2 linked regions of the Homo sapiens genome follow. The protein of the gene in region 2 purifies or fractionates together with the protein of the main gene of each other region. This does not show direct contact. Each region holds a gene or a part of one and is shown on either strand. Other genes may lie near its edges.

The links. Proteins that work in one complex are often made in the same cells at the same time.
Region 1: the proteins of SERPINA7 (region 2) and MIA3 purify together in Homo sapiens (affinity purification with mass spectrometry; 3 studies listed by BioGRID and IntAct, with this or other methods). This does not show direct contact.

The regions. Positions count from the first base shown.
Region 1 is NC_000001.11:222,614,080-222,621,126, forward strand, and holds the start of MIA3 (transport and Golgi organization protein 1 homolog isoform 1 precursor), read left to right. Parts: upstream 1-4,017; 5' UTR 4,018-4,031; coding exon 4,032-4,164; intron 4,165-7,047.
Region 2 is NC_000023.11:106,031,934-106,035,762, reverse strand, and holds the end of SERPINA7 (thyroxine-binding globulin precursor), read left to right. Parts: intron 1-377; coding exon 378-651; intron 652-1,380; coding exon 1,381-1,528; intron 1,529-1,998; coding exon of another isoform or gene 1,999-2,059; coding exon 2,060-2,263; 3' UTR 2,264-3,328; downstream 3,329-3,829. UniProt on the Homo sapiens protein: Major thyroid hormone transport protein in serum.

The sequences.
Region 1 (7,047 bases), on a different chromosome or scaffold from region 2:
CCTGTTACTCCATCTTGGATGGAAGCTATAGTCCTCAATAAATGTTTGACTCCATTCTCTAAACACTGAGTGATTTTATCATTGGCAATAGATTCTATCATTGGCAATAGATTTTATCATTGGCAATAGATTCTAGGTTCTTACTGGTAACTTCAGTGTTAGACCTTCTGGATGTTCATGGCTAGGCACCATGGCAAGTTTACAATGATATATGTTATTGCGATGTCTCCTATTTGTTTCAGTTATCTCTTGTTTTCTCATTTAGACTGCAAATTCCCTGAGGTCAGAAACCCTCCAATGTTACATTTCTATGTATCTTCCACCCAAAACTAGGCAAATTTATTTTTAACTCTTACTTAATCTTTACCCATTTGAAAATTCCATTTGAAGTGTTACCAAATAATACATGTAGGATTAGAGTTTATGTTAAACATCAATGCCACATATTCAAACGCTATGAGTGAAAATGAATTCTGATTCATCCCCTAATTTTATATATGCTAGGAGGAAGAACCACCACCCCTACCTTCACTATGGTCAGCTGAGAACTGTCTTCTAATTATCCACCAGGCTTGTCAATATCTTTTTAAGAAAATGATTTTTTCAAAAATGTAAATAAATCAAAACCCTATAAAATCTACACACTTAAGTAGCTAGTTCTTCAGTAACAGAGAGCTCTGACCTTTCATGTAAAAGCTTTTGTAAATATTAGTCAAAGTGAATATTATTCACTTTGTAAAGTAATAATATTCGATTAGATCATGTTGGAGTTTTGTTTTTTTCATCAATTAATTGTTATTAATTCTAATCTAAGGAGAAATAAGATAAAATCATGTTTTAAATCTGCTTTAATATTCTGGTAGTATATTGGGAAAAAATACATGCTATTTCATCCACTCCCTCTGCAACAAATACACCCTCATTCAACAGTAAATACATTTCAGGTTCTGTCCTTGGCGGTAAGGATGCTACTGAGGGGAAGACACCAAATGCCTTGTTTTCATGGTATATTCCCTTTTGGTACTATTCATTTTATGGAGGCTTTATTTAGGTTAATAGCATAATATATTTATAATGTGTGAAGATCTGTGGGTTTATTCAACAAATCATTTGTTGAGTACCTTATATATTCCAGACATTGTTCTAGGCACTGATATTACAGCAGTGAACAAAACAGACAAATCCGCTGCTTCCATGGAGCTTATATTGGAGGTTGGGTGGCAGTAAAGTAGATAAACATAAGGCAGGTGGTAAACGCTCTAAAGAAAAATAAAGCACAGTGATGAGCCAGCTAGTCATGAGAAGGAGTTCTGTTTTACGTAGGGGTATCAGGGAAGGCCTCACTTGTAAGATATGGCACTGTTACAGAGACACGATGAAGTGAGGAAACTAGTTAGCCAGGCAGACTATTTGGGGAATTATTCCAGGCTGACGGAAAATTGCAAGTGCAGATACACGAATGCAGGATTAGGCTTGGTGTATCTGAGTGGAACCAACAGAGCAAGGGAGGAGTGTTAGGAAATGAGGGTAAAAGGGCAGAGGAGTAAAATTAAATAAGACAGTGTACTCCATAAAAAAGTAATTGCATTTTACTTGGAAATGGGAAGCCATGGGAAGGTTATGAGCAGGGGAGAGGCATGACCACATTTATTTCATAAAACAATTGCTTTAGCTACTATTGAGACTATGACTTTGGAAGGGCAAGAGCAGAAGCAAGAACATGACAAGGCTATTGCAGTTATTCAGGTGAGAGATGGGTGGCCTGGCCTGCACTGCTGGCACTGGAGATGGGGAGAAGTGGTCAGATTCTGAATGTATTTCAAATGTTTATGCTGAGTGAAAGAGTCAGACAAAAAAAGAATGTATACGATATTATTCCATTTATATCAAATTCTAGAAAATGCAAACCAATCTGCAGTGACAGAAGGTTGTCTGAAGACAGCTGGGACAAGGGAGGGAGGGATTATAAAGGATCATGAGAACTCTTTCAGAGGTGATGTTGATGAATATGTTAATTAACTTCATTGTGGTAATGGTCTCATGGGTGTAGACATATGTCAAAAATTATCATTGTACACTTTAAACATGTGCAATTTATTGTAGGTTAATTATACTTCAACAAAGCTATTAAAAAAGACATGGGATTGTCTGATGGATTGGACTTGGGTGTGAGAAAAAAGAGGTCGAGGATGGTTTGTATGTTTTTGGCTTAAGCACCTAGAAGATAGGAATTAAATTGTCATTCCTATTCCTCAAATAGGGAAGACCGAAAGGAGCAGAGTTTGAGAGAAAAAGATAAAGAGTTTGGTTTTCAACATATTGTTAGAGATGCCTATTAGACACATCTAAGATATTAAAACAAATAAATACACAGTAGAAAAGAAATGAAGAATGAACAGAACTACTACTTGGATAGAAAGTGCTTGTCCGTGACCTTACCAAATGTATATTTCTCAAGACAGCATTGGAATTACATTGGCCCAGTAGGAACTCTCACGGCTCCTACAGACAAAAATTTGTGAGCATCTGTTTACCGTTTTTTCCTTATTCGATATAATGGATTGCACAGACAAGCCACATTCTTTCTTCTTGCTTTTAAGTAATACGATTTGTTTGGGAAACCAGCTGCTGGGTTTGTTGTTCAAGGTTGATGAGTAACCTTAGAGATTGCAATGAGAAGCTGCTGGTCACAGACAGATGCCAAGTTCTTCAACCAGGGCTGGAGAGCATTGTAGCCACTCTTCTGGAGAGCATTGTAGCCACTCTTCTCTGGGCTGACCTGCTCATGCAGTCCCCCGCTTTTTTAACTGCACATATAAATCATCCAGTTATAGTATGATTTAAATAAGATTTTGCTTCCCTGCTCAGAAAGAAAGTACAAAAATTGCTTGTTGCTTGATGGAGGCTTTACAGAGCTGTGATTAAAAAGGAGCATACTACCTGGGTTTGAATCTTAGCTCCATCACTCACTAGGTGTTTGAATGCCTTAAGGTAGTCATCTCTGAAATGGGGATCATAATAGGACCTACTACTCTAAGGTGCGATTGTTGTGAAGATTAATCTTAATTCTGGCATGAAATAAGTATAAAATGGAAGCTCATCACACTGTTATTAAATTAATTTACTTTTTTCCTATGGATATAGATCTAGGAATCTCAAGATCTCAGCCCAAGGACCATTACCCATTTCTATCAACGACCAAGCAGGCCACGGGCTCTGATTTATATCCTCAGCCCCCTATTCCACTCACCTCCCCCTTTCTTAATCAAAGAGCACCACGGGATGGTGCCCCCAAGGAAGCCCTGGGAGGCTGAAAAGGAGGGAGCCTGAAACCAGAGACTAACAGTGGCAAATCGCGGGTGGGATTTGGCAGTTCAGAAAAGGAGGTACCATGCCAAGAGTGGGGGTAGCGGGGTGAAGTAGCGGGGTGAAGTGGGGGGCTGGTTCGGGACAGGCCACAAACCAGAAACTGCGAGAAGGCGCCAGAAGGGACCTGTTGAGATGGCGCAGGGTTGGGGGACCCAAGCGCGCGGGGAGGGGTGAACTAAGAATGGAGTCACGCGGAGGTGCTGCGAGGGACTGGGGCAAAGGCAGGTGATTGGGCGAGGGAGTCCTGGTTGCCACGGCAGCGACCAGAGGAGAAGGCTTCGAGGAGAGGAGGAGGCTGCTGTCAGTCCTCCTCCTGGAGGTCTCCCGCATCCCTCCTAGAGCCTCTGCTGACGTGTCAGTCGGAAACTGCTCAGACCTTCGCGGGCGCCGCCCCTCTGCGCTTGTCTTCCCACATGCCCCCGGCGCTCCGCCTGGTCCCTGCCCGCGTCCCTGCCCCCGTCCCTGCCCCCGTCCCTGCCCCCGTCCCCGCCCCGTCCCCGCCCCCGCCCCCGCCCCCGTCCCCGCCCCCGTCCCCGCCCCGTCCCCGCCCCAGCCCCCGCCCCAGCCCCCCCGTCCCCGCCCCGTCCCCGCCCCCGTCCCGCCCCTCTGCGCCCGCCCCGGCCTCCTCCTCCGCGTCACCGGCTCCCCGAGGTGACCACAACATGGCTGCGGCGCCTGGGCTGCTCGTCTGGCTGCTCGTGCTCCGGCTGCCCTGGCGGGTGCCGGGCCAGCTGGACCCCAGCACTGGCCGGCGGTTCTCGGAGCACAAACTCTGCGCGGACGACGAATGCAGCAGTGAGTGCGCTGGAGGGGCGGCTGGCCTCGGGGCGGCTGGCCTTGGGGTCTCCGCCGGCCCCGGGGGTCTCCGCGGCGGCGCCGCCTGGGCTGTGCGGGGACGGGAGTTCCGCAGCCCCTGGCCGGCCCGGGGGTCGCAGGCGGGATGGGCTGAACGCGGGGGTGGGCGCGCTCCGGGTCCCTGTGTCTGCCTTCTCCCGCTCTGCCTGCGCCCGGCCCCTCGGGCCTGACCATGGGGGCTGCACCTCCCACTTGTTGCCAGCGTTTTATTTTTCCTCTGCTGAGGCGGGGGGTTGCTTGCGGTGGTCCCCGGCTTCCCCAATAGTGGCTCACAGCGTCCCCTTCCCACCCCCCCAATCCGCCTGGGCTCGGAGGGTAGATGTGGTTGCGCGCCGCGCGTCTGGGCTCCCCACGCCGCAACCAAAGCTTTCCTGCCCGCGCTGCGGGGACCTCGGTGGGTGCATCACCCCGGCAGATGCGCTAAGGGCTCGGTGGGCGTTTTCCCAGTGGCAGGTTGATGGTGGGGTTTGTTTGGAAAGGCTCCCTGGCGCTGCTCCTTTGCCCTTCTGCTTTATTGGGATTTGGGCTTGTACCGCCTTTTGAACAGGAATTGGGAGTTTAGGTTTGGGACGAGTCTGGAGTCCAAGCACTCATTGTATTCCGAGGTCTCTGCCCCGACTTTGATCAATCCTGTCGTTTCTGTGCTTGGAAGCCGCCTTGCAGACTGCTAGGCAGGACTGCAGGAAGACCAAAATCTTTCGCTCTGCAGAGACCGAGGATCTGCACCGGCCACCTGGGACCGGCAGCCTCCTCTTCTGTGCGCAGGAAGCGGAATTGCTCTCCAGTCTGGGATTGGAGGTGGGCGGTGGAGAGGGCACAGATCTTCAGGCTCAGATGAAGAAGGTTATTACAGGAATGACAGTAAATACTCCAAGGGTCTCATAAGCCAAGCTTGGTTTAGCCTTAGCCGCTTGCGTGTTGAAACCTCTTCCCTCTATGTTCGCCGGACCAGGATCATTTTAGGGCCTCCCAGACCGTCTCAACCTTGTAACTTACTGATAGCCACTGCAGAAACGGTTTTTCATACACTGTTAAGCAATGCCTATAGAAACGTATTCATTTTAAGAAGGCCAAGAACTCTATGGTTTAGCTATTTATATTCAAATTGATGTTATCAAAACCGAATTTCATAATATGAACTGTTTGTATCTCTACAACACTAATCAAGAAAAGAGATCTCTAATGAGTGTGAAGCCATTCCTAGAGATAACCCTGTGGTTGATGTAAATAAACACTACAAAAGCGGTACAACTGCCATGATTTTTCCCTTTAGTTTTCTTGGGTCAAAGCCACGCTGTTACCCATTTGCCGTTGGCAATGGCAAGATAGTTGGTATTCTTTGCTTGCAAGCATTGCCCTGCCTGGGTTCCTCAAAACAGGTTACCTGGAGAATCATCACATCACTGATGCTTCTTCAGTACTGAGGCATGATGTTAGAAGAGCTCACGGTTGTAACATAACTTGAGAAATGGTACGTGTTCAGAGGAAACCAAATACAATAGGCATCAACAGGAGCAAGGTCTAGATGGGTCTGTGTTGTGTTGTAGAAAGTGTTTAGTAATGTGAGTATGTACGGTGCCCTTGTGTGGTTTTCAAATAGCTGTTCCACAGGGTGCATTTTGTTGGCATCTCAAATATTATTATAAATCCTCTATGATCTATTGTAAGGGGGAGCAAAAGAAACATTGCCATTTTCAATTCTGATCTTATTCCCAACCTTAAATTGTCCATCATCTTAAACCTGGCCTCACACTCAATTATATCTGAGCTACAAAGCTGACATGTTGGAAAGTAATCAGAGTTTAGCTTCAAAAAACAAGTAGCCCCTTCCAAATCTATATGCGTGTATAGCCATTTAAAGGCACGTTTTTAATGTATTTTATTGCAAATTGGCTTTTGGAAAAAATCTTATTTCTATTCGTCCTTCTTTGTCTCTGCTATTTAGATGTATTTATTGTCCATTTCATCTTACATGGGAAACTGTGTATGTGGTCAACAAAAATAAAAGTACTGCTTCAGCCAGTTTCTAGATCAAGCGTGATTGAATTACTGACCTATTCTCATAGTTTTGCTTAGTCCCAGCCAAATGAGATGTCGACTTTTGATTTTGTTTATAGAAAAATATACATAAGGGTATTCTTTCCTTTGTTTTGAAACTTAATTTTGGATACAGTCAACATTATTTACTTTCAGAAAATATTGCCTTGTGATGTAATTGAATCTATAGTAGGGTGTGATAGATATCTTTTCCCATTAATTTATCCAGACACTGTACTAAGGGAACAACTTGGCTGCAAATGAAATTGACAGTGTTTACTGCTACATAGTACTGGTTACAGTCACTTGAAGATAGACCCTTTTAGTGGTTAGTTCAAGTTAATTGACCTCTTGGGGGTTCCTGGGTACTCTAGTTCCCTATTACCCGTTCATGTAGCCATGCTTAAGTTAATCATCATCTGGGCTTGAATTTACCCATTTGCAAAAGGAAGCTTTTTATGAATATGAAACAGAAAAGATTGAGGACTAGAAGGTTAGAGAGGGAATCGAGAGTTTCACTTGGGTGAGAAAAGCCATGTGTGGTAGTTGGCACATTGCTTTTTGTTTCTCAGTATTATCCATAGAGAAAAATAGAGAAGGTTTTCCTTTCCCTTGTCTGCTTGCAGAAGGTATGATTTATAGCAGTAAAGCTCAAAGGATTTGAGATACTTTGAGCATATGAAAGAAATTCCAGAGAGTACTGGAAAAACTTGGTTGTTGTTTATAGTGGGATTCTTATATTTCCTGATAAATCAATATGCACTGTGAACACTGAATCCTGATATC
Region 2 (3,829 bases):
CCACACATAGATAGATTGGCTAAAATTGCAGAACAGATCTGTTTTCTCACTTCTCCCTAGTGTGTTGGATGTCGTTATACCTTTTTATGGAAGAGGAAACTATGGCTCTGATGGGCTTAGTGTGGTATAGTAGTTTTGAATACAGACTGTGGAGCCCAACAGCCCTGGGTATGATTCCTGGCTCTGCCACCTGTTAACTGGGAGACCATGACAAATGACTTTCTCTGCCTGATCCTCAGTCACTTGTAAAACTGGTTGACTGTAGGTACCTAACTCTGTGGTGATCTTAATTTCTAAATGAAATCACTAATGGAAAAGGTCTTGTTGGTACTGATACCGGTTTAAAATAAACACCTCTCTTTTCTTTGTATTTTAAGCCCAGTGGGCAAATCCTTTTGATCCATCCAAGACAGAAGACAGTTCCAGCTTCTTAATAGACAAGACCACCACTGTTCAAGTGCCCATGATGCACCAGATGGAACAATACTATCACCTAGTGGATATGGAATTGAACTGCACAGTTCTGCAAATGGACTACAGCAAGAATGCTCTGGCACTCTTTGTTCTTCCCAAGGAGGGACAGATGGAGTCAGTGGAAGCTGCCATGTCATCTAAAACACTGAAGAAGTGGAACCGCTTACTACAGAAGGGGTAAATGCCTTAGAGGATGTGTGGGTGGAAGGTGGGCATAAAAGTGCAGGTGAGACAGAGTTCAGCAGAAACCCAGAGGCAGAAGAATCACCCTGAACTACCCAACAGCTATGTATGATCACTAGAATATGCCAAGAAAATACTGTCTACCAGGCCCTTGGCTGGGCATTCTACATACTTCATATCATCCAAGCACATCAACAAACCTACAAAGGAGGCAGTATAATTGGCATTTTTCAAATTAGGAAGTCTGGTCTTGAAAGATAAGATGAGCTCCCCAAAGTCAGCCTATTAGTAAATTGATGGCTTCCTGTAGACCAACTAGAGCTCAAAGAACAGGTTGGATTTTGATGTTGAAAGGTGATTGGGCAGCCACTCTGTACTGGAAGTGCAAGGCAGAAAACTGTGAAGCTCCTGGGTGCTACCCATTAACCTTCATGCCACTAGCTCCCCAACCTTGGTCGTCACCTCAGGGATATTTTCTCTTGATTATAAAGGAGTTACATCTCCCTACTCCCAGTGCTTCAGTCCAACATTGGCTGTACCTGAGTGCATTCCTTTCAGAATAACTTCTGTGAGTTTGGTGCCATGTATTGACTTACATAGTAATGGTTATCAATACTCAGGGAAGAAGCAGAGTCCAATATAATACCATCATGAGAGAGAGAAGGAGAGAATCATAAGCTTGATATGGTGATTGCCATGTGTTCCCTTCCTCTTTTCCCACAGATGGGTTGACTTGTTTGTTCCAAAGTTTTCCATTTCTGCCACATATGACCTTGGAGCCACACTTTTGAAGATGGGCATTCAGCATGCCTATTCTGAAAATGCTGATTTTTCTGGACTCACAGAGGACAATGGTCTGAAACTTTCCAATGTAAGTTGATAAACTAGAGTTCTTAAATGTATGAACTGGAAGAGCAATTAGGAGTCAATTGATTCAACTTTCTTATTTTACCAATTAGCAATCTGATGCCTAGAGAGGCGGTGTGACTCCTCCTAAGCTAGAATCACTCCAGAGTCATTCCCATTACTCCAAATAAGTAATTGTATCAGTTTCTTCCATCCTTGACCTTTATGTCCCAGAATTACTCTGATAGAACAGCTTAATGATCAGAAGTGACTCTGGTGAGATGCAGTTCTGAAGGAGGTGTGAGGAGGGAATGCTTAAGAGGTGACTCCTGGCGGCAGCAGGCCATAGTGAATGAGGTGTTTCCCAATGGCTAGCCGTAGAATCGCCAGAGAATGATTGACTACATTTAGCAGAGGAAACTTCATATTCTAGCACCATCAACATAGTATAGCAAAGGGGCGGCCCCACCTTTCCTTTCCCTTTCTTACTTCTAGACCTTCCCAAAGACTGTTCCTGTTTCTTCAGAGACCCGCAGGATTTGTTCTCCCCACACAGGCTGCCCATAAGGCTGTGCTGCACATTGGTGAAAAGGGAACTGAAGCTGCAGCTGTCCCTGAAGTTGAACTTTCGGATCAGCCTGAAAACACTTTCCTACACCCTATTATCCAAATTGATAGATCTTTCATGTTGTTGATTTTGGAGAGAAGCACAAGGAGTATTCTCTTTCTAGGGAAAGTTGTGAACCCAACGGAAGCGTAGTTGGGAAAAAGGCCATTGGCTAATTGCACGTGTGTATTGCAATGGGAAATAAATAAATAATATAGCCTGGTGTGATTGATGTGAGCTTGGACTTGCATTCCCTTATGATGGGATGAAGATTGAACCCTGGCTGAACTTTGTTGGCTGTGGAAGAGGCCAATCCTATGGCAGAGCATTCAGAATGTCAATGAGTAATTCATTATTATCCAAAGCATAGGAAGGCTCTATGTTTGTATATTTCTCTTTGTCAGAATACCCCTCAACTCATTTGCTCTAATAAATTTGACTGGGTTGAAAAATTTTCCCTTTTCTGTCTTCTGGGGAATAGCTAAAAAGCAGGTCAGGTCTTCGTATCCCAGTACTCCAATAAGATCAATGGACATAAAACAATGCAGATGCATTGTCTTATATGTGAACTTCTCAACCCCCTTCCCACTGTCCCATTAGTAGGATTCTCTGAGTTCTTGCCAGATCTGACACTGGTAGGTTGAATAAAGGAACTCCCACTATGGGGATGAGTTACAGACTGAGACAACTGAACAAGTTACTGAACAAGCATGGGACAATACAGCAAGAGATAAACTTGCCTGTCCAACCCCACCTTCCCCCCAAGAAAACATACTTCCACCTTGCCAATGTATAAGCTGGGAGTGGAGAAAGAAAGTAATTCATTCATGTCATATCTCATAGACCCTCTTTTTCTGTATCCCAATCAGACTCCTTTCCATATATAGCACCCCTGTCCCACTTGTTTAAGTAGGAATCTCCTTTTTGGCTCTAATTTCACTGAATATTGGTACTTTTGTATCCCCAGATCCTTCAACAACCTTCCCTCTACCTGTACATGCCAACTCATTACCACCTACCAAACTAGATTTTATTTCAGACACTATGTATTTAAAGCTTGAGTATAAATGGCACAGTGAGTGGTAATGATGTAGTATCTGAAATTCTAGCCCTGAGGTAAAACACTTCAGTGACAGGAAAATAGTAAAAAAAATGCATAAGTACTGTTGCAGATGTTGTACTTCCATATTGAAATAAATATTTATGTTTAGAAAAGCATGTGTATTACAAACATTCTAATTTTTTCTGATTAGACCCATTTGCATGGAAGTTTGTTTATTCCTGGTATAGTTCACACTTTGCTTTTGTGTAAGCAATTTTTGAAGCCCAGAGCAGAATCTCTGGTACAAAAATTCATTGTTAACATGGAGTTGTGTTTCACTAAAGTTACATTACAATCCTGGCCCTGCTACTTAGTGTTTGGTGATCTTGGACAAGGCACTTAAACCCTGTACCTTATTTTCTTCATCTGTAAAATGGGAACAATAAGAATATCCATGTCATTGGGATTTTGTGAACCTTCAATGTTGCAAAGCAGGTAGCATGTAATATGCTCATCACAGAGCCTGAGACCTGATAAAAAGCCCTGTAAATATTAGTTGTTTCAATCATGTTGGTCAACACCAGACAGTGGGCTGGTATCAGAACCAGGATTGTAATGTGAGTCTCTTGATTTGCGGGTTTCTGTTCTCTAGCTCAGGCTCTACCTCCAGAGGCCAG